Linked DNA regions of Homo sapiens: regions 1 and 2 are each linked to region 3. Evidence: fine-mapped expression QTL. A gene starts in region 3. Each other region holds a variant in brackets. All regions are shown on one strand. Distances are from middle to middle. Region 1 has its middle 28 kb from the start of GSTP1. Region 2 holds the start of NDUFV1 (NADH:ubiquinone oxidoreductase core subunit V1). Region 3 holds the start of GSTP1 (glutathione S-transferase pi 1).

The links. PIP is the estimated chance that this variant, and not a neighbour inherited with it, causes the effect.
Region 1: its variant is the best candidate, but not a certain one, in a credible set for the expression of GSTP1 in fetal neocortex (Walker 2019, PIP 0.88).
Region 2: its variant is the best candidate, but not a certain one, in a credible set for the expression of GSTP1 in whole blood (TOPMed, PIP 0.66).

Annotation. Positions count from the first base shown.
Region 1 is chr11:67,550,532-67,560,503 of GRCh38, reverse strand. No RefSeq gene overlaps it. Among named protein-coding and RNA genes, the nearest start is that of GSTP1, 28 kb to the left of the region's middle. The variant AAAT/T (reference allele first, on the strand shown) is at 4,838.
Region 2 is chr11:67,604,920-67,614,891 of GRCh38, reverse strand. NDUFV1 (NADH:ubiquinone oxidoreductase core subunit V1) reads right to left here and starts at 7,956. Exons shown (of 10, transcript NM_007103.4): 1 at 7,816-7,956; 2 at 6,414-6,496; 3 at 6,170-6,340; 4 at 5,257-5,440; 5 at 4,322-4,511; 6 at 3,685-3,897; 7 at 3,323-3,489; 8 at 2,914-2,995; 9 at 2,627-2,772; 10 at 2,338-2,520. The coding sequence starts at 7,887. The coding sequence ends at 2,434. NDUFV1-DT (NDUFV1 divergent transcript) reads left to right here and starts at 8,186. Exons shown (of 3, transcript NR_130935.1): 1 at 8,186-8,273; 2 at 8,881-8,999; 3 at 9,789-9,972. It also overlaps the pseudogene DOC2GP. RefSeq lists enhancers at 602-1,051, 1,142-1,191, 1,475-1,990, 1,960-3,159, 7,878-8,007 and 4 more. The variant T/C (reference allele first, on the strand shown) is at 5,864.
Region 3 is chr11:67,577,834-67,587,805 of GRCh38, reverse strand. GSTP1 (glutathione S-transferase pi 1) reads right to left here and starts at 3,994. Exons shown (of 7, transcript NM_000852.4): 1 at 3,962-3,994; 2 at 3,637-3,672; 3 at 3,236-3,342; 4 at 3,034-3,121; 5 at 2,565-2,668; 6 at 1,595-1,702; 7 at 1,153-1,417. The coding sequence starts at 3,962. The coding sequence ends at 1,229. RefSeq lists enhancers at 1,046-1,115, 8,334-8,433 and silencers at 3,615-3,764, 4,082-4,224, 3,775-4,394.

The sequences.
Region 1 (9,972 bases), 27 kb after region 3:
GCGGGGACTACAGGCGCCCATCACCATGGCTGGCTAATGTTTTGTATTTTTAGTAGAGACGGGGTTTCACCATGTTAGCCAGGATGGTCTCGATCTCCTGACCTCGTGATCCGCCCACCTCAGCCTCCCAAAGTGCTGGAATTACAGGCGTCAGCCACCGCGCCCGGCCTGCATCTTTGATTTTCAGAAAACATATGATCCCTTAGGCCTCCTGCCCATTGCAGATTTACTTAGAGCTCAGTCTGAACCCCAATTCCCAGGCCTAGGCAGCTCAAGGCCACTTCCCTCCTCTGCAACAGAGCAAACCAAGCCTGTAGCTTTCTCCCCTCCTCAGTCTCCATCATGGAGAGCCCACTTTCTCACTCCAGTCCTCCTGGGCATTGCAGGGAATCGGCCCGTGATGGAGAATCAGGGTGGGGCATGGACAGGAGGCGGCACCTGGCATAGCCCAGTCCTCCATCTCCTCCTGCTGGTGCCCTCCACCCCTGCCTGCCTGACCCCAGGAAAAGCTGTTCATGGGACATCCAGGCCCTGGGCATAGAGATGGCCCCTCTCTGTCCAAATCACCCACCAGCCTATCTCCAGTCTTCCCTTAGGATTTGTTTTTTTAATATACATATTTTAAATGGAGATGGGATCTCAGTGTGTTGCCCAGGCTCGTCTCAAACTCCTGGCCTCCCACCTCAGCTTCCCAAGGCACTGAAATTATAGGCGTGAGCCACAGTGCCTGTCCAGGAATTTTTGAGAAATAAGTTTTCTCCACTTCATTACATATTGTTTTTATAATGAGCAGTACAGGAAAAAGCTGGCCAAAGGCATCATCTGGGCACAGCAAAGAAGGCACAGAGGGCACCTGAGGTCTTCGTCAGCTAAGCATCCTTTGCCTCTTCCTTTGGTAACAGAACCTCTCTTTCTTGGAGGAACCAAATCCATGTGATTGAACTGAAAGTGACCACTTCTGCCAAGGGGATAGGAACTGCATTCTCCTAGCCAAAGTGATTATTCAGGGAGGGGCAGGACCCAGTGAGCCACGCCAATGAAAGGCAACCCCAGAACTCATCAAAGAAAGCCTTAAAGTGACTTGGCCATATTTGCCACCCTGCAGGTACAGGCTGCCTGAGAATGAAGCCACAGAGAAGTAAGCAGTGTAGAGAAAAAGAATGCTGGCTGGGTGCAGTGGCTCATACCTGTAATCCCAACATTTTGGGAGGCTGAGGCGGACAGACCACTTGAGGTCAGAAGTTCGACACCAGCCTGGCCAACGCGGTGAAACCCCGTCTCCACTAAAAATTCAAAAATTAGCCGGGCACCTGTAGTCCCAGCCACTCGGGAGGCTGAGGCACGAGAATTGCTCGAACCCGGGAGGCGGAGGTTTCAGTGAGCCGAGATCGCACCACTGCACTCCAGCCTGGACGACAGAGCAAGACTCTGTCTCAAAAAAAAAAAAAAAAAGAGAGACAGAGGGAGAAAAACAATGTTTCATGGGGAGGAAGAGTGAGAAATGATGAAGAATTTGATGGAGCTCCTGGATCCAACGTGCGTAAAGCAGAAGCATCCGTTATCTTCCAGTTAACTGAGTCAGCAAATTCGCCTTTGATTGGGTTTCTGCTGCTTTCAATCAAAATCAGCCCAATACAAGTCGAAGAGTGAGAATGAGGAGTGAGCCCCGCCCCTGCTGCTGTGTGTGGCACATTTGCAGGCTCTGGGAGACGCTGGTTAGAGTCAGGGACAGTCGACGCTGTGGACCCCGTAGCGTGGCCTCAGCAAGCTGGAGCTGGGCCCAGGCTTCCCAGAATGAACCAGTAATACAGCAGTCAGTGTGCCTCCCCGCCCTCCTTGATTCCTGAAATAACTGGTTAAATATAAATTGGCCCCACCCCACTGAAGTACTCAAGAAGGAGAAAAAACAACTTAGTGATAGCAGTGTAGTCTCCGTCGAGTGTTTCTGGGCGGCACATTCACTAGAAGTCACGCCAGTTGCAAGTCAGAAACCCGGTGCTGCATGGGGTATGCTGCGTGTTGCCAACAAGTGACTTATTTTATCATCTACATTGCAAACCTAGAAGATGCCTCTTCAAAAGGTGTTGTTCAGAGAACCCCTGATCCCGCGGGGCTGGAACATGGACGTGACAGGGATGGCATCCTTGGCATGGCAGAGAGAGCAGGGGGAGCCTGGGTCCCTAACACCACGGAGTGCCCATTGCTTCGTGCAGAGGACACCGGACTTGTTGCAGAGTGAAAACATACTTCTAGCTTGTTTCAGCTGCTGCGGTTGGGGGACTTTGTAACCTCAGTGGGACTTGTATCTGATTAATATACAACCTGAAGTGAGAACAAGAACCAAAGAGAAGTAGGAAATGGTTAGGATTTTTTTAGCCCCGGAAGGTGAATTTATTTCTGAAAACAATCTTTTGTTTTTCTTTAAATAAAAAGCGGCTTTTTAAAATAAAGAAACAGCCAAACTAAATACATGTTGGGCAAATATGTAAAGACTTTGGGCTGGGCGCAGTGGCTCATGCCTATAATCCCAGCATTTTGGGAGGCCAAGGCGGGCAGATCATTTGCGGTCAGGAGTTTGAGACCAGCCTGGCCAACATGGTGAAACGCTGTCTCTACTAAAAACACACAAAAAAGAGCCGGGTGTGGTGGCACACACCTGTAGTCTCAGCTACTCGGGAGGCTGAGGCAGGAGAATCACTTGAACCCAGGAGGCAGAGGTTGCAGTGAGCCGAGATCGCACCACTGCTCTCCAGCCTGGGTGACAGAGTGAGACCCCTCTCAAAAAAAAAAAAAAAAAAGACTTTGAAAGGGGCCAGTTGTGGTGGTTCACGCCTGTAATCCCAGCACTTTGGGAGGCCAAGGCAGGTGGATCACTTGAGCCCAGGAGTTCGAGACCAGCTTGGGCAACATGGCAAGACCCCATCTCTACCAAAAAAAAAAAAAAAAAAAAAAAAGACTTCAAAGGGACAATAAATTACTAGCCTATCTGTGTCCATATTTCATAGTCTAGTCCCTAATATTTAAAACAAATAGCCTTAAGACGATTTGTGTGCCATTATTATACACCCCTTAAGCATATAAAAAGGTAAAAACATGTTCAGTGTCATTAGGAAATGCAATTTTTTTTTTCAAGATGGAGTTTCACTCTGTCGCCCAGGCCAGAGTGCAGTGGTGTGATCTCTGCTTACTGCAACCTCCACCTCCCAGATTCAAGTGATTCTCCTGCCTCAGCCTCCCGGGTAGCTGGGATTACAGACATGTGCCACTATGCTCGGCTAATTTGTGTATTTTTAGTAAGGACGCGGTTTCACCATGTTGGCCAGGCTGGTCTCCAACTCCTGACCTCAGGTGATCTGCCTGCCTCAGCCTTCCAAAGTGCTGGGATTACAGGCATGAGCCACCATGCCCGGCCAGAAATGTAAATTAAAGCCACAGTGAAATATCACTGCACGCAGGGCACTAACAATTCCAACTGTTGGGCCAGGCGTGGTGGCTCACGCCTGTAATCCCAGCACTTTGGGAGGCTGAGACGGGTGGATCACGAGGTCAGGTGTTCAAGACCACCCTGGCCAAGATGATGAAACCCCGTCTCTACTAAAAATACAAAAATTAGCCGGGCGTGGTGGTGGGCACCTGTAGTCCCAGCTACTCAGGAGGCTGAGGCAGAGAATTGCTTGAACCCAGGAGGTGGAGGTTGCAGTGAGCTGAGATCGCACCACTGCACTCCAGCCTGGGCAACAGAATGAGGCTCCGTCTCAAAACAAAACAAAACAAAACAAAACAAAAAACAACAACAATTCCAACTGTCAACAGGAGGGAGAGCAACTGGAACTTCCATGCACTGCAGATGGGAGGGATTGTTAAACTGTTCAGCCACACTGAAAAACTGTATCAGCTGTAAAACTTCCAAGGTATATACTAGTGATAGGTGATTTTATGGGTTAAATTGGTCAGGCCCCAACACCCAAGTATCTGGTCAAACATTATTCTAGATGTTTCTGTGAAGGCATTTTTTAGATGAGATTGACAATTAGATCAGTAGATTTTGAGTGAAGCAGATGACCCTCCATAATGGGGGTGGGCCTCATCTAATCAGCTGAAGGCCTTAAGAGAGACAACTGAGGTTCCCTGAAGAGGAAGGAATTCTGCCAGAGACGGCCTTCAGCCTCGAGCCACGGCATCACCTCTTCCTGGGGTCTCCAGCCTGCCAACCTATCCTGCAGAATTGGACTTTTTTGAACATACCCAGCCTCCACCAAGCACATAAGCCAATTCCTTGGAGCCTTTCTCTGTCTCTGCCTCTCCCTCTCTCTGTCTCTGCCTCTCCCTCTCTGTCTCTGCCTCTCCCTCTCTCTTTCTCTCCACACACATCCCATTGGTTCCGTTTCTCTGAAGGAAACTAATACAAAGCTCAAAGGAAAGAGCGTATGCGTCCACCAGAAGACCTTTACAAGCACGCTCAGAAACCGAGCTCCCATGTTTATTGCAGCATTGTTCACAACAGAACAATTTATTTTGTATTTTTAAAAAAATTTGGCCGGGCGTGGTGGCTCATGCCTGTAATCCCAGCCCTTTGGGAGGTCGAGGCGGGTGGATCACCTAAGGTCAGGAGCTCAAGACCACCCTGGCCAGCATGGTGAAACTCCATCTCTACTAAAAATACAAAAGTAGCCAGGCATGGCGGCACACGCCTGTAGTCCCAGCTGATCGGGAGGCTAAGGCAGGAGAATCGCTTGAACCTGGGAGATGGAGGTTGTGGTGAGCCGAGATTGTGCCACTGCACTCCAGCCTAGTAGACAAAGCAAGACTCCGTCTCAAAAAAAAAAAAAAAAAAAAA[AAAT/T]TGGGGGCTGGGCAAGGTAGCTCACGCCTGTAATCCCAGCACTTTGGGAGGCCAAGGTAGGAGGATTCCTTGAGCCCAGGAGTTCGAGACTGGCCTGGGCAACATAAGGAGACTCCGTCTCTACAAAATTAAAAATTAAAAAATTAGCCAGATGTGGCGGTGCATGCCTGTAGTCCCAGCTACTTAGGAGGCTGAGCCAAGAGGATTGCTTGTGTCCAGGAGGTTGAGGCTGCAGTGAGCCATGATCACACCACTGCACTCCAGACTGGAGGACAGAGCAAGACCCTGCCTCAAAAAAAAAAAAAAAAAAGAAGAAGTCAGAATGAAAAACAAAAGAAAATCAAATTATATTCTATTTACAAGGAGCACATTTATAGCATAAGACTATAGGAAGGTTGAAAATAAAAGGATTAAAAAAGATAGGCCACATAGGAACAAACTGAAGAAAAGCTGTCATATATCTATACTGACGTCAGGTCAATAGCACTTTTTTCTTTTTTTCTTTTTTTTTTTTTTTGAGACAGAGTCTTGCTCTGTCCTCAGGCTGCAGTGCAGTGGTGCGATCTCGGCTCACTGCAACTTCTGCCTCCCGGGTTCAAGCCATTCTCCTGCCTTAGCCTCCCAAGTAGCTGGGACTACAGGCGCCCGGCACTACACCCAGCTAAATTTTGTAGTTTTAGTAGAGAGGGGTTTCACCATGTTGGCCAGGCTGGCCTCAAACTCCTGACCTCAAGTGATTCACCCACCTCAGCCTTCCAAAGTTCTGGGATTACAGGCATAAGCCACTATGCTTGGCCTACCAATAGCACCTTAAGGGAAGAAAAATAAATAAATAAATAAATAATGAATTTTAAAACAAAATCTTTACTACTTGGAAGGCTGAAACTGGAAGATGGCTTGGGGCTAGGAGTTCAAGGCTGTAATGTACCACGATACAGCCTGTGAATAGCCACGGCACTCCAGCCTGGGCAACACAGCGAGACCATCTCAAAACAAAGAAAACAAAACCTTTACATATGAGATGGGAATTTGCTAATGTGAAAAGATTCAGTATTTATTAAGACGTTGCAAAAATTCTAAATTTGTATGCCCTTAATAACATGGCCACAAACTATATACAGTAAAGTATGATGGAATTATGATGAGAAATACACAAAACAGCTGTGTGTGTGTGTGTGTGTGTGTGTGTGTGTGTGTATGTGTGTGTGTGTGTGTGTATTTGCCAATCTCAATCTTAATTCATTTCTATTTCCTTCCAGCCTAGAGTGGGATATTTTGAAATAGTGCTTCAGTAATTGATAGAAGAGACTGAGAAAACGATCAGAATAATATTGAATATTTGAATGACTGAAAATACGCTTTGTTTTCAAGCACACAAGGAGTACCTATCAGATCCTATACAGCCAGAAACACCCACACTCTTCAACAGATTGAAATCTTAGAGCATGTTTTCTGTACGCAATACAACTGAGCTAGAAACCAACTATAAAAAGATAACTTGAGTCTTTGATGAGGGCTATTTATTTTCTTTCTTTTTTTTTTTTTGAGGTGGAGTCTCACTCTGTCACCCAGGCTGGGGTGCAGTGGCGCAATCTCAGCTCACTGCAACATCTGCCTCCCAGGTTCAAGTGATTCTCCTGCCTCAACCTCCCAGGTAGCTGGGATTACAGGCATGCACTACCATGCCCAGCTAATTTTTATATTTTTAGTAGAGATGGGGTTTCACCATGTTGCCCAGGCTGGTCCCAAACTCCTGACCTCATGATCTGCCCACCTCGGCCTCCCGTAGTGCTGGGATTACAGGCATGAGCCACTGTGCCTGGCCTCTCCCACTTCTAACTTTACTTTTTAACCTCTTAACAGAGTGTTCTGCAAAGCAAACATTTCCTTTTTTTTTTTTTTTTGAGATGGAGTCTCGCTCTGTCACCCAGGCTGGAGTGCAGTAGCGCAATCTCGGCTCACTGCAACCTCCACCTCCCAGGTTCACACCATTCTCTTTCCTCAGCCTCCCAAGTAGCTGGGACTACAGACGCCTGCTACCACGCCTGGCTAATTTTTTTGTATTTTTAGTAGAGACAGGGTTTCACTGTGTTAGCCAGGATGGTCTCAATCTCCTGAGCTCATGATCCACCTGCCTCAGCCTCCCAAAGTGCTGGGACTACAGATGTGAGCCACCGCCTCTGCTGCCCAAGCTGCCTCTGTTGCCCAAGCTGGAGTGCAGTGGCGCAATCATGGTCCACTGCAGCCTTGACCTCCCAGGCTCAAGTGATCCTCCCACCTTAACCTCCTGAGTAGCTGGGACTACAGGCATGTACCACCATACCTGGTTAATTTTTTTTATGGTTTGTAGAGATGGAGTCCCACTGTGTTGCCCAGGCTAGTCTTGAACCCCTGGATTCAAGTGATCCTACTGACTTAGCCTACCAAAGTGCTGGGATTAGAGGTGTGAGCCATAGTGCCCAGCCAAACATTTTTATTTTTATGAGGTGCAATTTATCCATTTTTCCTCTTATGGATCATGCTTTTAGTATTAAGTCTAAGAATTCTTTGCCTAGCTCTAGATCCTGAACATTTTCTCACATTTTTTCCCTTAAAGTTATATAATTTTTCATTTTGTAATTAAGTCCATAATCCATTTCAGTTAATTTTCTATAAGTTGTGAGGTTTAGATTAACATTTCTTTTTTTGCCTATGAAATTCTAATTGCTCCATTACCTTCTGTTGAAAGGTATATTCGTCCGTTTTCACACTGCTATGAAGATACTACCCAAGGCTGAGTAATTTATAAAGCAAAAAGGTTTAATTGACTGACTGTTCTGCATGACTAGGGAGGCCTCAGGAAACTTACAATCACAGCAGAAGGGGAAGCAGGCACATCTTACATGGCAACATGCAAGAGAGAGCAAGCAAAAAGCCCAGGGAAACTGACTTTTATAAAACCATCAGATCTCATGAGAACTCCCCAACTATCATGAGAACAGCATGGAGGCAACATGCTGATTCACGATCCAATCACCTCCCACCAGGTCTCACCCTCAACACCTGGGGATTACAATTCAAGATCAGATTTGGGTGGGGACACAAAGCCTAACCAAATCATTCCACCCCTGACCCATCCCAAATCTCATGTCCCTTTCACATTTCAAAACACAATCATGCCAAAGTCTTAACTCATTCCAGCATTGACTCAAAAGTCCACGGTCTAAAATCTCATCTGAGACAAGGCAAGTCCCTTCTGCCTATGAGCCTGTAAAATCAAAAGCAAGCTAGTTATTTCCTAGATACAATGAGGGTACAAGCATTAGGTAAATATTCCCATTCTAAATGGGAAAAACTGCCCAAAAAAAAAGGTGCTACAGGCCCCATGCAAGTCTGAAATCCATTGGGGCAGTCATTAAATCTTAAAGCTCTAAAATGATCTCCTTTGGCTATATGTCCCACATCCAGGGCATGCTGATGCAAGGGGCAGGATTTTTCACAGGCTGGCATTCAGTGCCTGTGTCTTTCCCAGGCACATGGTGCAAGCTGTCAGGGGACCTACCATTCTGGGGTCTGGAGGACAGTGGCCCTCTTCTTACATCTCCACCAGGCAGTGCCCCAGTGGGGACTCTGTGTGGAGGCTCCAACCCCACATATCCCTTCCACATTGCCCTAGCAGAGGTTCTCCATGAGGGCTTTGCCCCTGCAGCAGACTTTTGCCTGGACATCCAAGCACTTCCATACATCTTCTGAAATCTAGGCAGAGGTTCCCAAACCTCAGTTCTTGACTTCTGTGCACCTGCAAGCCCAACACCACAAGGAAGCTGCCAAGGCTTGAGGCTTGCACCTTCTGAACTAATGCCCCAAGCTTACCTTGGCCCCTTTTAGACATGACTGGGGCCCATGAAACCATTTTTTTCTCCTAGGCCTCTGGGCCTGTGGTGGGAGATGTTGCCAACAAGATCTCTGACATGCCCTGGAGACATTTTCCTCATTGATGGAAATGACTCACAGTTCTACATGGCTGGGGAGTTAAATAGTGATTAACATTCAGCCCCTCATTACTTATGCAAATTTCTGCAGTGGGCTTGAATTTCTCCCCAGAAATTTTTTTTTTCTGTTGCATCATCAGGCTTGCAAATTTTCTAAACTTTTATGCTCTGCTTCTCTTTTAAATGTAAGTTCCAATTTCAAATCATCTCTTTGTGAATGCATAAAACTGAATGCTTTCAGAATAATCTGGGTCATGTCTTGAATGCTTTGCTGCTTAGAAATTTCTTTTGCCAGTTACCCTAAATCATCTCTCTCCAGTTCAAAGTTCCACAGATCTCTAGGGCAGGGGCAAAATGTCACCCAGTCTCTTGGCTAAAAAGCATAGCATGAGTGACCTTTACTCCAGTTCCCAATAAGCTCTTCAACTCCATCTGAGACCACCTCAGCCTGGACTTCATTGTACACATCCTTATCAGCATTTTGCTCAAAAGCATTCAACAATTCTCTAGGAAGCTACAAACTTTTCCATATCTTCCTGTACTCTTCTGAGCCCTCCAAACTGTTCCAACCTCTGCCCATTACCCAATTCCAAAGTCGCTTCCACATTTTCAAGTTTCTTTATAGCAATACCCCACTCTCTGCAGTACCAATTTACTATAATAGTCCATTTTCACACTGCTATAAAAATACCACCTGAGACTGGGTAATTTATAAAGGAAAGGGGTTTAATTGATTCACAGTTCCACATGGCTGAGGAGGCCTCAGGAAACTTACAATCACAACAGAAGGGGAAGCAGGCAGGTCTTACATGGTGGCAGGCAAGAGAGAGAGAGAGAGAGAGAGCAAAAGCCCAGGGAAAACTGCTTTTTTCTTTTATTATTTTTTTTTATTTTTGAAACAGAGTCTCTCTATTGCCCAAGCTGGAGATCTCGGCTCACTGCAACCTCTGCCTCCTGGGTTCAAGTGATTCTCCTGCCTCAGCCTCCTGAGTAGCTGGGATCACAGGCATGCACCACCACGCCCAGCTAATTTTTGTCATTTTAGTAGAGATGGTGTTTCACCATGTTGGCCAGGCTGGTCTCAAACTCCTGACCTCAAGTGATCTGTCTGCCTCAGCCTCCCAAAGTGTTGGAATTACAGGTGTAAGCCACCATGCCTGG
Region 2 (9,972 bases), 27 kb before region 3:
GAGGTGGGTAGGACAACTGGGCTGAGCAGAGATGAGGGGGCAGGCCTGGTGGCAGGGGCGTAGGGGACTTGGAGGAACCTGAGGCCAGCTCTCATAGGCCCTGTGAGCCCTCATTGTCACAGGGGACAGCCAGGTGACAAAGTGAGGGTGACTCCCTTGCCAGGGCAGCCCAGAGGAGCTGTGGGGCACTGGGACAAGCAGAGTCCCTGGGGGCGCAGCTGGGCAGAGACCTGCCTTGAGGCAGAGGCTGAAACTGGCGGCATTTGTCCACGGCCCGAGATGGGAGGCTGGGCGAGGTGGAAGAGAGGACAGATGGGTGGGGCTCCCTGGCTGGGGTCTGGCCTGAGGGGAGTGTGGGGGCCACTCCTGGGGCAGGCTGTCCTAGACAGGCCCTTGTCCGGAGGCAGTGAGGGTGACTGGCAGGGGTTTGACGCCACTAGAGACCAAAGACCTAGTTAGAACCCCTGTGGTCGGTGGGGGAGGCAGCTGGGAGGCTGAGAGCGGGGCCCTCTACCAGCTCCTCCCCAAAGTGCCGGGTGCCCCGCCCCCTGGTGGAGCCACAAGTTGCTGCAGCTGTCGATTAGCTAAGCCCAAGTGGCTGAAGCCCACCAAGGTGGCATGGACAGGCCACTTCACCCAGCGCCAGCCCCGTGTACCCTCCGCCCCAGATCCCAAGCACAACAGCGCCCGGAGCATGGTGGGTGCCCACAGAGCACTTCCGCATTCCTGAGAACCGCCTGTGAGCAAGGTGGTGGGGCTTTCCGCAAATGGAAACCTACCCTGCGGGTGAGAGCAGTGCATCCTCCCCGGGCTTCCTCCCTGAGCCTGTTCAGAAGCACCAGGGCCCAGAGTGTGACAAACGACACTCAGCATCTGGTCCCCAGGGAAATAGGGGGTGAAGAGGGTGGGGTTTTGAAGAGATCTGCTTCTCCTTGGGAAGTGAACATCCTCTCAGAGCCGCTTGCCTACAGGGGTGGCTACACACACTGGATGGGAGGCCACTTAGGGAGCTACTGGCATGTCAGCCAGTTCGCTTCCCCTCCATGACAGACGTATCTGACTGGTCATGTGGTCAGCAAGCCTCGCCTTTGGTCAGGCCCTGGAGGGTACAGCTGACCCATAGGGCCACTTCCATGGCACTGGGCAAGTGGCTGTATTGGAAATGAAGTCGTTGCCCCCGATTTCTTTGGGGCCAGGTTGAGCTTTCCTGCCCAGAGCACGGAGGCTAAAGGGGGTGGGCTTTGGACTGGATTGGGGCTGACCTCAGCCTACACCTGCAGGAGGAGGTGGAGACAGAGGTGGCCTGGGAGGAATGTGGGCACGTCCTACTGTCACTGTGCTACAGCTCTCAGCAGGGTGGCTTGCTGGTAGGTGTGCTGCGCTGCGCCCACCTGGCCCCCATGGATGCCAATGGTTACTCGGACCCCTTCGTGCGCCTGTGAGTGAACTGGGGTAGGCAGGCGGGAGGTGAGGATAAGGCGGTGACTCCTCACCTCTCCAGGGCCACACCTAACCCGCCAATCTTCCCCGATCAGTTTCCTGCATCCAAATGCAGGGAAGAAATCTAAATTCAAAACCAGTGTTCACAGGAAGACCCTGAACCCCGAGTTCAATGAGGTGAGCCAGGGCCAGGCAGGTCCCAGCCAACCCTGGCCTTGACATGCTGAGCCACTACCCTACCGTGGCCTGCTTCTTAAGCTGTGGGAGAGCCGAGGCTGCCTCCTTCCCGCCTCTCTGCCCTTCTCCCTGCAGGAATTCTTTTACTCAGGCCCACGGGAGGAGCTGGCCCAGAAGACGCTGCTGGTGTCTGTGTGGGACTATGACCTAGGCACGGCTGATGACTTCATTGGTGAGTGGGAACATGAGGAGCTGGGGTGGGGGCCCAGTAGGCTCCTGGCGGTTCCTGACCCATCCCCCATGGCAGGCGGGGTGCAGCTGGGCAGCCATGCCAGTGGGGAGCGCCTGCGGCACTGGCTTGAGTGCCTGGGCCACAGTGACCACCGCCTGAAGCTGTGGCACCCGCTGGACAGCAAGCCTGTCCAGCTCAGCGACTAGCCCATGGGCCCTGCCTGCCGCCCCTCCACTACAGCTGCCTGAAACGTCCCCACAAAAATGATGGCGGCTGGGGCTGCCTTACCCTCATGCCCAGCCCCAAGTCAGAGAGGTGTTTCCTCTCTCCCCGCTTTCACATTCACCCCACCCCAAATCATGGAGCCGAAATAAACATCTCCTTCAAGCCAGATGAGACCCTGTCCTTTCTCTGGCCATGGGCCAGACTGGACCCTGTTCTCCCCTCCCACCCTTGAGGATCGTGTGCTGGGTAAAGGGTAAAGAGCACAGTCACAGCAGCGGCAGCTGGAGGGTGGGCAGCACTCGCTTTATTGTCCAGCATTCCACATGGATAGACGCAGGACAGCAGGCCAGGGTGGTGGGCTAAGAGGCAGCCTGCCGGGCCTGATGCTGCTGGGCAAACCGCTGCATCCGCTCCTCGAGCTCCGGCCGAAAGTGGCGGATCAGACCCTGGGGTCGGTGGGGGGACCATGTGAAACAGAGTCCAAAAATCCCCCAACACCCTGGGCCCTTGATGCCACCCACCCTCCGTGCTACGCAGAAGGGTGGTGAATACCTGCACAGGCCAGGCGGCCCCGTCACCCAGAGCACAAATCGTATGGCCTTCTATCTGCTTGCTGATCTCCCACAGGGAGTCGATCTCGGCCGGCCGGGCATCCCCCCTCACGAAACGTGCCATCACCTTGTTCATCCAGTCCACACCTGCAGCCACAGCCACAAGAGAGGGCCTGATGATCTCCCCAGCCAGGATGTGGGGCGGCGCTTGAGGGCTGCAGGCCACGTGGTGGGGAGGAGGTTAAATGAAGCCACAGCAAGCAAGCCCCCAACCTGCCCGATGCTCACCCTCACGGCATGGGGTACACTGGCCACAGCTCTCGTGCTTATAGAACTCAATGAGGCGGGCGATGGCTTTCACGATGTCCGTCTGGGTGACGAGGGGCAATTAGCAGGCACCCACGGCCAGACAGAAGCCTGGGCCTCAGCCCCCTAGCAGCAGCCCCTCCCCCAGTTCCAGAAGCTCTTCCCAGCCCACCCAGCGTTCTGGCCTCCTCCAGCCTCCCTGGGCCCCCTGTGCTGCCCAGACTCCGGGGTATTCTCCTCAGAGCAGCCTTCCTCCCTCCTCTTCCACCTTGCTTTATCTCAGGCTGCAGGAACTGAGACCTGAGTGCTGGCAAGAGGGTTTTCTGGGAGGCCCAGGGAGGGAGACAGCAACCAGGAGGGCAGGGACCAGGGCTGGTGTGTGAACCCTTACCGAGCGGTCCATGACGATCACCGCAGCTGTGCCCAGGCCTGTCTGTGCCTGCACCAGCGCATCGAAGTCCATCAGCACCGTCTCACACACAGACTTGGGGATCAGTGGGGTAGACGAGCCGCCAGGGATCACAGCAAGGAGGTTGTCCCAGCCGCCCGTGACACCCCCTGGGGCCCCAAGTCGGTCCCCAAAGGGATGCATGGTCAGGGCTGGGGCCGGCACACCTGCCTAGTCCTGAGCCCAGGCCCTTAGTCAGCCCCTAGACCCAGCCCCGTCTCCTGAGCCCTCCCGCCCAGGCTCTCTTTGTGGACACCTGCCCCCACTGCGCACCCCCCCACCACCTGGCTGGCCCCAGGCCTTACCAGCATGCTTCTCAATCAGTTCTTTCAAGGGCACAGACATCTCCTCCTCCACAGTGCAAGGGTGGTTGACATGGCCAGAGATGTTGAATAGTTTGGTGCCTGAGTTGCGTTCTCTGCCAAAGCCAGCAAACCAGGTACCTCCACGGCGGCAGATTGTGGGGGACACTGCCACTGTCTCCACGTTGGCCACAGTTGTGGGGCAGCCAAACACTCCTTCAGGGAAATGGGAAGAGAACTGGTGGCTGCTAGGGGGTGGGGCAAGTTTCCTGGCAGGGAGGTGTGTCCCAGGGTCCTGCACCCATGGCAGAGCCCCTGCTCTAATATCCCCTTATCATTCTTATCCCTGCTGGACCCCAAACTCCAGAGATGCCCATTGCCTTGTTCACCCCATGCCCTTAGCCTCAGAACAGGCACTGTGAAGGTGGAGCCACAGAGCAGCACTGGTGCGGAGGGGACCGAGGCAGGAGGAGGGACAGCAGGCGGCCCTGGGGGAGCCTGTGTGTTGTTGCCAGCCTACTCTCTATCTGGCCCCAGCCGGGAAGCCACTCAGAAATCCCTAAGAACAATCCAAAGGGAGCCTAGCCAGATCCCGGGTGTCACAGGACACAGTCTGACCCAGGGTTACGCCAGGCCTTACCCACGTCTGCGGGGAAGGGGGGCTTCAGGCGGGGCTTGCCCTGCTTGCCCTCAATGGACTCGATGAGCGCTGTCTCCTCTCCACAGATGTAGGCCCCAGCCCCGCGCACCACAAACACGTCAAAATCATAGCCAGAGCCACAAGCATTCTTGCCAATCAGACCTGCCTCATAGGCCTCTCGGATGGCCACCTGCAGGACAAAGGTGTGAGTTTCCCAGCCCACCCCCAGCCCAGGAGTCAGCCTATAACTTCAGGAGTCATGAAGCCCTTGAAGGCCTCCCACGGTGAAGCTCCTAATGCTCCTGGTATAAAAAATTTTGCTAGCTTAGTAAAACGAATTGGAAAACTTGACTATGATCTGGAACAGATAAGCAAGAAGGAACACATAAGTAAGCTGCTTTGCTGCCAGGAAAATAAAAACGAAGTAGCTACTATCAGGTCTCCTAACTACCCTAGTCTGTAAAGGAAAAATAAAAGTCCTTATAAAATTAAAATAAAAATGTAATTGCCTATATCCTTATTGCCTTAACCTATTTTATTTTTCTATATTTCCTACAGATATAAGTATTATTCATAGTTCCAAGCAATGAACATAATGTATTTTCTCCAAATAGGAATTGTTTATATTCATAATTATTCCGCTCTCTTGCTAAACACATAGTTCCACTTAGGTTTTTTCTTCTTGCTACTTGTTTTATAAAAAATACTATATTTTTGAAGCAAAAAAAAAAAATTTACACCAGCAGCATTAGGAGCCCTGGAAGGAGGCTTTGGGAGCCAAGTCCCATTTGGGATGCATGCAGGACTGGCCACCACTCCCCCAGTTCAACCACTGACAGACCAGGTACTAACACCTCAGAACAACTGTGCTGGGTGAGGGGTGTGTGAGTGCACACTGAACACCTTCTCATCTGTCTACATCTCTCCCTACCCACCTGCAGATTGGAGGCCTCATTGTAGAATTCCCCTCGGATGTAGATATAGGCAGCGCGGGCGCCCATGGCCCGGCCCCCCACCAGGCAGCCTTCCAGCAGCTTGTGAGGATCATGGCGTAAGATCTCCCGGTCCTTGCAGGTGCCCGGCTCCCCCTCGTCTGCGTTCACCACCAGATACTTGGGCCTGCAGGGGCCCACAGGTCAGACAGGCTACAGGGCCATCAGGACTGGGTCTTCAACTCCATGCCACCCCACTCCACCCAGGGAGGCCTCAAAGATGTCTCCTCTGACAGCCAATCCTTTACTGCCCTCCCAACATGTCCCAGGGGCTCTGCTTGCTCACCACCAATGACAGGGAGCTCACTGCCTATTCTGTCTTTGGGTGGCTATGACCACAAGAAAGGTCTTCATTCAGCTCATCCAAACATCTCTCCTTGTGTCTGCCCCTGAGAGCCAGATTCTACTCTTGGTGACAAAGAGCATTCCTCAAGCTCTACCATCAAAAGGAGGTAAAGCAGGTGACATTTATCATTTGCTTTATGTGCCAACCAGCATACAGGCCAAAAGCTGTATGAACATTATCTCTTTAATCCTTGCATGATATCAC[T/C]GTACCTATTTACAAAAAGGAAGCTAAGGTTCACAAAGGCTGGGAAATTGCCCAAACCTCTATGATTAGGAGGCAGAGCTAGGATTTGAACTAAGTCTGCCTGAGTCAAAATCATGTGTTGATTCTGCTACATAAGTCTCCCCTGTGGAAGTCCACAGAGTAAGTCCCATCCATTTAAGGCCTGGGAACATGTGCCCACCTCATTCATGCTAAGTTTCTAAGGAAAGAGCCCAAAGGCCCAGGGAAACCCCAGCCACCCCCAAGGTCTCTCCCACAGCCACATCTGCCCCGCCCCCACACACACACCTGCCATCTGAGGGCTTATTCATGAAGCTCCACTTGAGGCCAGTGGGGAAGCCAGCGCCTCCACGGCCCCTCAAACCCGATGTCTTGATCTCGCCCAGGATCCAGTCGGGCCCCTTCAGCAGGATCTCCTTTGTCTTGTACCAGTCACCTCGACTCAGGGAACCTTTCAGCCTGGACAGAATAGGGAAGGCAATGAAGGGGACACCTTGCTCCGGGACCCAACACACTAAGGGCACTGTCTCACCTCCAGTCATGGCGGCCGTACAGGTTGGTGAAAATCCGGTCTTCATCCTTCAGCGAGCCAAATGAGGTTTTCTTGGGTGCTGTCTAGGGAGACAAAGGGTCAGGAGGCCCAGAGTGCTCTGGGGCCATGAGGGATTGGGCCAGAAGCTACAGAATCTTGGGTCTCCCTATTTAGGAGGGGCTGGGCTAGGGCTAGGGAAGCATCTATAGCATCATAGATACCACTGCCACTTAGTAAGCATTTTTTTTTTTTTGAGACAGACTCTTGCTCTTTTGCCTAGGCTGGAGTGCAGTGGCGTAATCTCAGCTCACTGCAAACTCCACCTCCCAGGTTCAAATAATTCTTGTGCCTCAGCCTCTGGATAGCTGGGATTACAGGCACTCACCACCACGCCCGGGTAATTTTTGCACTTTTAGTAGAGACAGGGTTTCACCATATTGGCCAGGCTGGTCTCGAACTCCTGACCTCAAGCGATCCGCCCGCCTCAGCCTCCCAAAGTGCTGGGATTACAGGCGTGAGCCACCGCGCCCGGCCATTAGTAAGCATTTTGTTTAGCAGGTACTGGATGGAAGCATTTTACATCCAAAATCCCATTTCATCCTCATAAGAACTCTGATAGGAACGATTTTCTCTGTTTCACAGAGGAGAAAACTGAGGCTTGGAGCAAAAGGAGCTTATGGAAGGTCTCACAGTCAAAAGCAGCAGGTCCAATTTGAGCCCAGGTCTGTCGGTGGCCAAACCCACAGCTGCATCACGGCACCACACAGCCCCACAAGCCGAGTGTGGCAGCTTGGCCCTTTCCCGGCCTGGCTCCCCTGCTGGACCAAAACTTGGGTAGGCCAGGGGCCTTTTATATTCCTACCTCGGCCGAAGAGGCGAAATGTGTTTACTGATGGGAAAGAAATGCCTCCTTAACACACAGGTGATGGAGGGGCTCACTTAGGATGAAATGAGGAGCCCCACGACCCAGTGGAGAGCGCACCAGCTGAGGGCGACGGGATTCCCATCCTTTTAAGAGCACTTTTCAGCCACTTCAGGGCGCAGAGCAGTGGACGGGAAATCAGGAGGTGCGCATCCCTAAATGGGGCAATGACCCCTTCACGCCCTACAAGGCTGTGACAAGGAGAGAATGAAAGACTAGGGGTCTTCACAACCTGCAAAACTTCCGCCAGGCCGAGGACTGTAAAACAAGGGAAGCCAGCAAGTCAGAGGGTCAAGGGAGTCGGCCCCGCGTTGGGACCCGTTCCCCTACTTCAACCAGGCCGGAGCGGGGGCCTTCCCGCCTGGCCTGGGGAGAAGGGCTCTCCAGAGGCCACTACAGACCCCAGGGACTGCTCGTGCACGGGCGCGGCCGCGACACCCGGCCCCAAACACCCGTGGCCCCAGCCAGGCTGGGCCTCACCGTGTCGCCGCTGAAACGCACAGATACCCGCGCGGGAAGCGACCAGCCGAGCAGCCGCCGTGTTGCCAGCATCGCGGCGGGCCAGATGGGTCACCTCACGCTGTCACCTTCATAGCACTGAGGCTGAGGAACTGGCGCGATAGAGACGCTAGGTGGCGCGCAGGAAAGACGTCACGCGCCCGACGCCAGCGCCGCGCACCGGTATCGCTGCGCCCCTTCAACTTCGCCAGCGGCCCCGCCTCCTCGGGGGAGGACTGAGAGGCCAGTGCCTTGGCGCCGGGGCTTCTGGGAGATGTGGTCCCACCGGCCTGGGGTCCGCCTTCCTCCCTCCACCGGGCTGGCATTTAGCGGTGGCTGTCCCCACCGCTCGCTCTTTCGCTCCCTCCTTAGCTCGCCGGCTCCCAGCCTTTGATGCCACAAGTAAACAAACCTCGCATGTCGCCTTCTGCTGGGTCCTGGTGTGTTCCACTTTCTATAGATTCGGCGTTTAGTGTGCACCTGCGGTATGCATCGGTGTATCATGGGAGGAGTGAAAAGTCAGGCAGGTCATAGCCCGATCCTCATGACTACGTTGCAATTATTCTGCCCAGTGCGAGCCCTGCCAGACTGTGGGCTTCCCCACCCCGGGCGTCCGTGTGCTCGAGGAAGGATTGCAGACTCCAAGGCAGGGGGTTGTTCGCGGAGTTCTTCCCAGAGGGCCTGTCACGGAATCCTAGGCTGGGGTGAGGCAGAGAGGATGCAGATGGTCAGTGCACGGCACAAACTCTTGCTGGCGCCGCTGAGTTCTCTCAGCTCTTGTCAGGAGAGTCCAGCACTTTCTGCTTCTGCCCAAAATCCTGGCATGGTCCCTGCTGCTTTTGGAATCAGCCACTGGTCCAGGATTTAAGGGCTCTGCGACCCCGTCCTTCGCCAGGGTCATCACGCCCAGGCCACTGCTGTGAACCCCACCCCCGTCCCCCAAGACCCCTTTCTGCCGTCATTAGACTTTAGGGCGTTTGTGTGGCTGTCCCCCTCCCTCGGTTTTCCCCTGACCTGAGGAGGTCCCTCTGTCCTTTGCCTTCCCAGGAGGTCTTGGAAGCCTGATGAACTCGTCTTTTTCAGTTTCCTGGAACCCTCTGCTGTGGTCCTCGTGATAAGAGTGACCTTTTTGGCCTGCTCTCCCCAGCTCTTTTCCAGTCCTCATGGTGAGGAACCATCTCTGTTCTTTTGTGCTGTAATCATCCTTCCTGATCTCTCTAAAACGTGCTGTTTACAAAACTCCTTTGCAGCTATTTTCTCACATACCCCACAGCAGCCCCACAAGGTGTTCACTCCATTTTGTCCACGAAAAAACTGAGGCTCAGGGGGATTTTGTCCTTTGTCTGTGGGCATGAAGCTGCTGAGTGGTGGAGCTGGACTGGAATCTAGGCCTTTCTTCCTTTCCACAGTGCCCCGCACACAGCAAACCCACAGAACAACTGACACGCATGTGACAGTCACTGTGGACGTCAGTGACATTCCCAAGAGAGGCACCAAGAAATCTCTTCCCTGTCTGAGGTTTCCCAGACAGATAGAGTAGTATCAGGCCCAGAGCCCAGGAGTCCTGGCTGCCAGCCGCAGGCCCCCTCTCTTGGTCAGGGAAAGAGGTTGCCTAGGCAAAGCTGGGGATTACACAGCTAATCCGGGCTCAGACCTGAGTCCTCGGATCCCTCCCTTTGGGGCAGAAGAAGGGGGGCAGGTCAGAGCCAGCCCAGCGGGTGGATTCCTTCCTCATCTGTCTCTAACTGGGTCAAAGGAATACAGGCTGAGGGAGATGCAGGTTGGGGATGCTGGGGACAGGAGATGCTGGGCATGAGGGGGGATGGAAAACGGAGAGTGAGGGAAGGATCCTCTGTTCATTCAGTGCCAGGCTCTGGGCCAAGCACTTGCCATGTGTTACCTCCTTAATCCTCCAAAACTCCAGCCTCAGGAATGATGAGCCCTGTTTTCAGAAGCAGGGTATCAGCATTGCTGAGTGGCCTGCCCAGGATGACACAACTGCCAGAACTCGGCCTGAGGTCTCCTAACAACAAATCCCCCACTGGTCCCCACCCACTGGAGCACCTACTTGCCAGGCTTCTCAAGCGAAGAAGGAGATCCACTCTGATGTCATCTCCCAGGAGCCTTCTCTGCAGCATC
Region 3 (9,972 bases):
GCAGGAGAATTGCTTGAGTCTGAGAGGCAGAGGTTACAGTGAGCAGAGATTACACCACTATACTCCAGCCTAGGCACCAGAGTGAGACTCCATCTCAAAAACAAAACAAAACAAAACAAAACAAAAACAGTGTATTAGTCCATTCTCACACTGCTACAAAGACCTATCAGAGACTGAGTAATTTATGAAGAAAAGAGGTTTAATTGACTCACAGTTTTGCAGGCTTAACAGGAAGCATGACTGGGAAGCCTCAGGAAACTTACAATCAGGGTGGAAGGTGAAGGGGAAGCAGGCACATCTTTACAAGGTGGCAGGAGAGAGAGAGCGATTCTCATGCCTCAGCCTCCCAAGTAGCAGGGACTACAGGTAACCGCCACCACACCTGGCTAATTTTTGTATTTTTAGTAGAGACGGGGTTTCACCATGTTGGTCAGGCTGGTCTTGAACTCCTGACCTCAAGTGATTCACCTGCCTCAGCCTCCCAAAGTGCTGGGATTACAGGCATGAGCCACTATGCCCAGCCTAGATAAATTTGAATGCTTTTCTCTTGCTCATGTCTTTAGTTCTCAGGCCCAGCCAAAAAACCCTAAAAGGACAGAGATAAAATTTTGCCTGCCCTACAGCATCTTACTGGCTTAGCTTCTCTGGAGAATCCTAATACAGTAGTGTCATTGCTTGCCTAGGATGCACCAAAACTCACAAGTCAGCAGGAAGCCAGGAAAGCCCCCATCCAAGCAGAATGACCCTCCCACCAACCTGGGCTGCTCAGAGCTACTCAGCTAATCCCCCAGGACAGGGAACTCCTCACATCCCTCCTTCCCAGAATCCCTCATTTCCCTCCATCCTGGAGTCTGTCCATCTGACAGGCACGTGCTGTGCCTAGAAAGCATGTTTCTATGAGACTTTTCTCCTTCTATATACACTGTGTGGTGCTCCAGGACAGTGACCATGGTTATTTCTCTTTGTTTCTCTCTCTCTTTTTTTTTCTTCCTCTTCTAGTTTGTGAGGTTCAGTAAACACAGCCAGGCTGAGGGCTCCAGGAAGCCACTGACTGTGCTGGAGGAGCTGTTTTCTAGTCCTCTGCTCTGCCCTCCCACCGACCTCGAGGCTGAGAACCCCTAAGCCCCGTCCCAGGAAACACAGTGCTCATAGTAGCTCTCTTAGAAATTTTATTGGTCCTGGAGAAAGGAAGGCAAACTCTGCCTCCCGCTCAGAGTCCCCCCAACCCTCACTGTTTCCCGTTGCCATTGATGGGGAGGTTCACGTACTCAGGGGAGGCCAGGAAGGCCTTGAGCTTGGGCCGGGCACTGAGGCGCCCCACATATGCTGAGAGCAGGGGGAACGCATCCAGGCAGCCAGGGGCTAGGACCTCATGGATCAGCAGCAAGTCCAGCAGGTTGTAGTCAGCGAAGGAGATCTGCAGGGCAGGGGGGCCAGGGACTCAGCCAGCGGGAGCAGGCTGGAGGAATTGGGGGCAGAGGGCCTAAGCCCATCCCCTAGGTCTGCTCTGCTTTGCTAAACAAATGGCTCACACCTGTGTCCATCTGGAAGCAGAGGGTGGCGAGGAAGGAACAGCATGGGGCCAGATGCTCACCTGGTCTCCCACAATGAAGGTCTTGCCTCCCTGGTTCTGGGACAGCAGGGTCTCAAAAGGCTTCAGTTGCCCGGGCAGTGCCTTCACATAGTCATCCTTGCCCGCCTCCTGCCAGACACCACCATGTATCATCCTACTCTCATCCCTCCCAGCCCCTGAGACACCCCCGTCTGCCCCAGGCCAGACACCAGAGTCCCAGATTCTCCTCTGCTTGCTCCCCACAACCAGGCTAGTACCAAATCCTGTCCACTTCAGCTGCCAACTCATCTCTATTCCATTCTGCCTGTCCATCCTTGCTGGGTTCTCTCACCAGATGATTGCAAAAGCTTTAGAGCTGGCTTCTCTGGAGGATCCTTCTAGACCTCACATTCAGACACAGCCCTGTTCAGACTTCTCAATGGCCCCCATTGCCCTTAGGAGACTCCAAACCAGTGGGTTCAAGGCCTTCGGGACCTGGGCCTACTGCCCGCCCATCTCTATCTCCTTACCCACCCGACACAAATGCAAGCGTACACACACACACGCACACACATGCACACGCACGCGCACACACGCTGCCTCTGCTGAACTGGTCCCAGGTCCCCAAATGTGCTCTGTGTCTGCATATTTTCCTCAGCTAAAAGTGCCAGCACCTCCATCCAGAAACTGGCGACAAATCCTCCTCCACCTCTGGCTACTCCAGGAAGCCCTCGCCACCCCAGGAGATCAGAAACCACCAGTTGCTGGAGGTCTCTGTCCTTGCACTCGCCCCCATGACCCGTTACTTGGCTGGTTGATGTCCCAGGCAATAAGGGTGCAGGTTGTGTCTTGTCCCAGGCCCCTGGGCCCCTGGCCCAGAGCTGACCCAGCCCCTGCACCCTGACCCAAGAAGGGGTCAGCCCAAGCCACCTGAGGGGTAAGGGGGGTGAGGGCACAAGAAGCCCCTTTCTTTGTTCAGCCCCCAGTGCCCAACCCTGGTGCAGATGCTCACATAGTTGGTGTAGATGAGGGAGATGTATTTGCAGCGGAGGTCCTCCACGCCGTCATTCACCATGTCCACCAGGGCTGCCTCCTGCTGGTCCTTCCCATAGAGCCCTGGGGTTGGGTGGAGGGGAGCAGGCCGCGTGACTGGGCGCCTGATCAACACACAGTCACTGGGGATGGGCCAACCAGGGGGCTGTCTGTGAGCCCCAGCCTGGGAGGAGGGGAAGAGGATGTGCGTGGAAGGATGAGAGACTGCCACACAGCAGGTGCTCAGAGCTCACCTGACACCTGGGAGGCAGCCTGGCACAGGGCAAGGATTGCAGGCACCCAGGCTTGACCTTGGGCAAACTACGTAACCTCAGTGGGTCTCAGTTTCCTCCACTCCAGAGGGCTGCGGGGCAGCTGATTTAAACAAAAGGGCTCCGGGGGCAGAGGCTTGCCCATGCCTGCCCTGGACTTGGAGGTTCAAGACTCACCAAGGGTGCGGCCCAGGTGACGCAGGATGGTATTGGACTGGTACAGGGTGAGGTCTCCGTCCTGGAACTTGGGGAGCTGCCCGTATAGCTGTTGGGGGAGGCATGGCTCAGGGAGGGGCACTGAGCTTGGGCGTCCCCCGATCCTAGTCACAGCCCCCTAAGGCCCAGCACCCCCTCCCCTTGCCCGGGCATGGTCACTTACGCAGGAGGCTTTGAGTGAGCCCTCCTGCCACGTCTCCACGGTCACCACCTCCTCCTTCCAGCTCTGGCCCTGATCTGCCAGCAGCATGCGCAGGGCCGCGCAGCGGCCTGCGGGGAGGGAGAAGTACGAGATGTGGGGACCGGGCCGACTCCGCCTCGCAGCAACCCGGGGAGGGGTCAGGAGTGCAGGGAGGGAACAGGGAAACAGGTTCCTCCGAAGATTTCACACAACACTGGGGCGGGGAGCAGGCATGGCGGGAGAGGCGGGGAACAGGAAGGAGGCCCGGGGTAAAAGCCACACGACGGAGGGATAAGGGGGTTCGGATCTCTCCGGGTGGGCGAGGGGCTGTGGGCTGCAGCCCCAGCCCCTGCCTCCCTTCCCTGCCAGACACATGCTCCTACCTCGAACTGGGAAATAGACCACGGTGTAGGGCGGCACTGCAGCGAACAAAGAAAAGTTTGCTGGAGCCCGGGGGAGGATGCCAAGGCGCGGTGAGCGCAGTCTGCCCCCCCTCCCCGCCCCCGGGGTCCCATCCCTCCCCGAGGCGCTCCGGGCCCCCTGAAAGCCGCTAACGGCACTGGGGACGTCCTGGGTCCCCTAGGCCCCCGTCCCGGGTCTCGAGGTGGGCGAGGAGCCCTGCCGGGAGCCCGGGCCTGATGCTGCGGGTTGGCCCCATGCTGGGAGCTCTGAGCCCCATCCCCGGGGACGCGGGCCGCGCGTACTCACTGGTGGCGAAGACTGCGGCGGCGAAACTCCAGCGAAGGCCTCGCGGCCTCCGAGCCTTATAAGGGTGGTCCCGCCCCGCTCCGCCCCAGTGCTGAGTCACGGCGCCGGCCGCTCTTCTGGAGGGTCCCGCGGACTCCCGCCGGCCCCAGCCCCGGCGGCCGCTGCACCCCGGGCGTCGGCCGCAGAGGGGCGCCCTGGAGTCCCCGGAGTCGCCGCGCAGCTGGCCGGGGAAGCCTTTCCCTCTTTCCCAGGTCCCCAGCGGGGCCTAGGGAGTAAACAGACAGCAGGAAGAGGACCGCAGCGAAGTGTGCGCAGCGAACTGGCGCGCCGGGACATCGCGGGGGGAAATTCCCTAAGACCGCTGCGATCCCGGAGCTTGCACACCCGCTTCACAGGGCAGGGGAGAGGGGTGGAGGCCGCTTAGAGGAAAGGAAATTGCTTTATTTTATTTTATTTTATTTTATTTTTTTATTTTATTTTATTTTATTTTATTTTATTTTATTTTATTTTATTTTATTTTATTTTGTGTTATTTTATTTTATTTTATGACGTAGTCTCACGCTGTGGCCCAGGCTGGAGTGCAGTGGCGCGATCTCGGCGGCTCACTGCAACCTCCGCCTCTCGGGTTCAAGCAATTCTGCTTCAGCCTCCCGAGTAGGTGGAATTATAGGTGCGTGCCACATCTGGCTGATTTTTGTATTTTTAGTAGAGACGGGGTTTCACCATGTTGGCCGGGCTGGTCTCGAACTCCTGACCTTAGGTGATCTGCACGCCTCGGCTTCCCAAAGTGCTGGGATTACAGGCGTGAGCCACCACGCCTGGCCGTCCAACTTTTATTTGAAGTTCTGGGGTACATGTAGAGGATGTGCAGGTTTGTTACATAGGTGTGTGCGCCATGATGGTTTGCTGTACAGATCATCCCATCACCCAGGTATTAAGCCCAGTATCCCTTAGCTATTCTTCCTGGTACTCTCCCTCCCCAGCACCCCGCTCAACAGGCACCAGTGTGTGTTGATCGCCGCCATGTGACCATGTGTTCTCATTGTTCAGCTCCCACTTATAAGTGAGACCATGCGGTCTCGCTGGTTTTCTGTTCCTGTGTGAGTTTGCTGAGGCTAACGGCTTCCAGCTCCACCCATGTCCCTGCAAAGGACATGATCACGTTCCTTTTAGTGGCTGTGCCTTAGGCTATTTTCTTTGGCTTTGCTGCCTACTTTCTGTTGATTTGCAGATCTCCATTTATTCTAGATATTGATCTCTTGTTGGCTTTAGACATGACAGACAGCTTCTCCTATTCCATCAACTGTCAAGTTTGTCCAAGGAGTCTTTCATGAAACAAAACTCGTTAATTTAAGTGTAATCAAATTCAGCAAGGGATTTTTGTGGTGGGGAAGAGGTTGGTGTTTATGTTGTATCTTTAAAACTTCATTTAATGCAGCCATTAAAAAGAACTAGATCATGTCTTTTGTGGGAACATGGATGGAGCTAGAGGCTATTATCCTTAGCAAACTAATGCAGGAACAGAAATCCAAATACTGGATGTTCTCACTTGTAAGTGGGAGCTAAATGATGAGAACTTATAACACAAACAAGGAAACAACAGACACTGTGGTTGACTCCAGGGTGCAGGATGGGAGGAAGGAGAGGAGCAGAAAAGAGAACTATTGGGTACTCGGCATAATACCTGGGTGATGAAATATTCTGTACAACAAACACCGAAGACACGAGTTTACTTATGTAACAAACCTTCACATGTACCCCCAAAACAGAAATAAAAGTTAAAAAACAAAGAAATTTCATTTAAAAGTCTTTTTTAAGAGACTTATTATCGGGGGAAATTCAGCCCCCAATATTTCACGTGGGTCCTTTCCTATTTTCCCTAAGTGTCGGCTGGCCTGAGAAATAAAGGGAAAGAGTACAAAAGAGAGACATTTTAAAGCCGGGTGTCCAGGGGAGACATCACATGTCCGCAGGTTCCGTGATGCCCCCTGAGCCGTAAAACCAGCGAGTTTTTATTAGCAATTTTCAAAGAGGAGGGAGTGCACGAACAGGGTGTGGGTCACAGAGATCACATACTTCAAGGGCGACAAAAGATCACAGGGCAGAAGGTCACGGCGAAACTAGAATCACTAATGAACTTCCAGGTCCCACTGTGCACGCACTGTCAGGGTTCAAGAGCAGAGAACCGGTCTGACTAGAATTTGCCAGGCTGGAATTTCCTAATCCTATCAAGTCTGGGGGTGCTGCAGGAGACTAGGGCGTGTTTCATCCCTTTCTACTTCTGAATAAAGGCAGGCACTCTCAGGGAGGCCATTTCAGTGGCCCGGCCCTGGGAATGCATTCTTTTCTCAGGGCTGTTAATTATTAATATTCCTTACTGGGGAAAGAATTCAGCGATATTTCTCTTACCTGTTTGCGGTAATAAGAGAAGTATGGCTCTGTCCTGCCCAGCCCACAGGCAGCCAGACTTTAAGGTTATCTCCCTTGTTCCCTGAAAATTGCTGTTATCCTGTTCTTAAGATGCCCAGATTTCACATTGCTCAAACACACAACAATTGTCCTCTACAAACAATTTGTGCAGTTAACGCAGTCATCACAGGGTCCTAAGGCGACATACATCCTCAGTTTACGAAGATGACAGGATTAAGAGATTAAAGACAGGCATAGGAAATCACAAGAGTATTGATTGGGGAAGTGATAAATGTCCATGAAATCTTCACAATTTATGTTCTTCTGCCATGGCTTCAGCCAGTCCCTCCGTTCGGGGTGCCTGACTTCCCACAACATGTATGTTGCCGCAGCTGGTCTGGAACTCTTGGCCCCAAGTGATCCTCCTGCCTTACTTAGCCTCTCGAATAGCTGGGACTACAGGCATGTGCCACCACACCCAGCTAATTTTTGTATTTTTTGTAGAGATGGGGTTTCACCATGTTGCCCAGGCTGTCCTTTTTTTTTTTTTTTTTTTTTTAAATTTTCACCAATGGACTGAGGTCACAAGGAAGCTTTTTAAATTTTTGTCACCTTGGGTTTTCTTTAATTTCACTCTAATTGTCTAGCTTTGGTGCTCTTCCTGGCTTGCCAAGCTGTCTCTCTGGTTTGGCCTCTTGGCCCTTCGGTCTGAGGTTGGTCATCTTTCTTCAGTTTTGAGAAATGTATCTCCATTGTTTCTTCTGAGATGCCCTCTTCTCCGTCTTCTTCCTCTTCCTCCTCCTCCTCCTCTTCTTCTTCTTCTTTCTTCCTTGCACTATCTGGAAAATGGCCCTTCTAATCTATCCTCCTATCACTTTACTGCCTTTTTTTTTTTTTAGACAGGCTGTCACTCTACTGCCCAGGCTGGAGTGCACTGGCACCATCTCAGCTCACTGCAATCTCTGCTTCCTGGTTCAAGTGATTCTCCTGCCTCAGCCTCCTGAGTAGCTGGGATCACAGGTGCCTGCCACCACACCTGGCTAATTTTTGTATTTTTAGTAGAGACAGGGTTTCATCATGTTGGCCAGGCTGGTCTCAAACTCCTGACCTCAAGTGATCCACCTGCCTCGGGCTCCCAAAGTGCTGGGATTACAGGCGTGAGCCACTGCGCCTGGCCACTTCGATGTCATTTGTGTTTCTTCTGGTTTGTCTTTCCTGGGAGAGAGTTCCCCAGCTGATCTCATCACTCACCTCTTCATCCATGAGTCGCATACCTCGTATGATTCATCCCATCTGTTGTTGGCTTTCTTCGATTATTGTTTTTATATCTACTCTTTCTTTTTGTTGCTTTTTGTAACTTCCTATTGCCAGTGCCTTCTCTCATGTCCTCATGATTTCTCTTGTGTGTATTCTCCGTCTGTGTGCTGCACTCATTCAGCGTCAGGGGATGTTCCTGTCCCCTGAGATGTCTCCCCTGGAACCAGTGAGCTTGTGCCCTTCCCTTGGTGGCACTGGTCATTCTCTCGGGTAGTATGCCAGCCTGTGGTTTCAAAGCAAAGGAAGGAGATAAGCACCACCAAACCACAGCCAACCTCTCCCCTTTGCTATCGCTCTTCAAACAGAGCTTGAGGTCAGAGTTTCCCCTTCCGAACCTTGGGAAGCAGCGCTGGGGAAGGTGGCTCCCCATGTTCTAATGTGCTGGTGCTGGGTGTTTCCAGGGGAAGTGTGGGAGGGAGAAAGCCCGCCCCATTCAGTCCCACTGTTCTCCCCAGTGCCTCACCCAGCAGAGGGTAGCAGAGGCTAACTTCGGTTTAGCCTGCACCAGGGTCAGTGTTCAGCAGTGACATCCCCTCAACAACTCCAGAGAGTACTAATAAAGGAACTGAATGCAAACTCCTTCCTTCTGGCATCCTACCACAGCCACCTCCAGCCACGCTCAGTCTCCACCCACACACACATCTCCACGCGCATCTACTCACATCCCTGTACACCCAGACACACACAGGTTCAACACAGCCTGCAGCCTCCAGGAGGGGCGACGTCTCACTTTATTTGTTTAATTTTACTGTTTTCCTGAAATCTCTGTTTCTCTCTGTGGTTTCTCCCATATTTCTACCGGAGAGGGCAACGAAAGCTCATGATAGTTCACCATCTAAATCAAGGATTGGGACACTATGGACCGTGGTTCATCACCTGCTTGTGTAAATAAAGTTTTATTGGGCCCCAGCCATGCTCACTCATGTGTGTGTTATCTATGTTTGTTTTTGTGCTACAGTGGCCCAAATGAGTGATTGCAACAGAGACTATGTGGTCCTCAAAGCTTAAGATATTTTCTTTTTTCTTTTTTTTTTTTTGAGATGGAGTCTGGCTCTGTCGCCCAGGCTGGAGTGCAGTGGCACGATCTTGGCTCACTGCAAGCTCCACCTCCCGGGTTCACGCCATTCTCCTTCCTCAGCCTCCAGAGTAGCTGGGACTACAGGCGCCCGCCACCACACCCGGCTAATTTTTTGTATTTTTAGTAGAGACGGGGTTTCACTGTGTTAGCCAGGATGGTCTCGATCTCCTGACCTTGTGATCCGCCTGCCTCAGCCTCCCAAAGTGCTGGGATTACAGGTGTGAGCCACCGTGCCCGGCCAGCTTAAGATATTTTCTGTCTACATTTTCAAGAAAAATTTGCTGACCCCTGATCTAGACCAAGGTCCAGACCCCAGCCTCAGGAAAAGCTAGACTTCCAATGTCACCCATTCGACCTTCACCAAGAGTGGCTCCATAGCAATGCCATCTTCCCCTTGCAGTACCCAGCGCCTCCCTGATATCTCGGCAGCACAGGAGGGTTCCAGGCCAGGGTGGGAGCCATTGAGATGCTCCTGAAATGTACTGTGAGGATGAGCAGATCTGGTCCAGCTTAATCTTCAAAGTTCTGAACTCTTATCCAAGGTGAAGGTGCCCCAGTGGCCTCACTGAGCCCAGGCGCAGGGATGGGTGGGCCACAGGCATGGGTTCATGCTTCCCTGAAAGGAGTTGAGGACGCTCATCTCAGGGCTGGGAGCTCTACTTGGTGCTTGGAGCACCAGTTGTCCCGAGCAGGTGGACTGAAGCTGGGAAAGCCCTTGGCCTCTGTCCCTTTCTTGGTCTTGATCCACGGCTACCCTGTGCCCACCAAGCTGCCATGTGCAGCCTGACCAAGGGCTGGGGCTCCGTCAGGGCAGCAAAAGCTAAGCCGGGGTTGACTGCCCAGCTCAGCAGGGCACGGAAGCAGGCTTGGGCTTCAGTCCAACACTTTTCCAGAGACAGCTACCGGCGTGGGGGCTGGATGGCCAGTGCTCCAGGCCTTTGCCCACATCATTTGTGGTGTCCCAGCCAAACCTGACTAACTGGGGCTGCATTTAGTGGCTTAGCACTCAGAGTCATCCTCCCTAAACCCCCCAGAGTAACTGGAAGCCCAGTTCATCTTCTGTCCTTGCTAGAGCAGGGCCCATGGGTGGCAGTGAGCCTTTTCCAGGGTGTGTCCACTCGGTGCCAGGATGCCAGTGTTGACGGTGCTTCGGGGATGGTGGGGACAGCCTCGGACCCCGCTGACAGTCACATTCCTTCAGACTGCA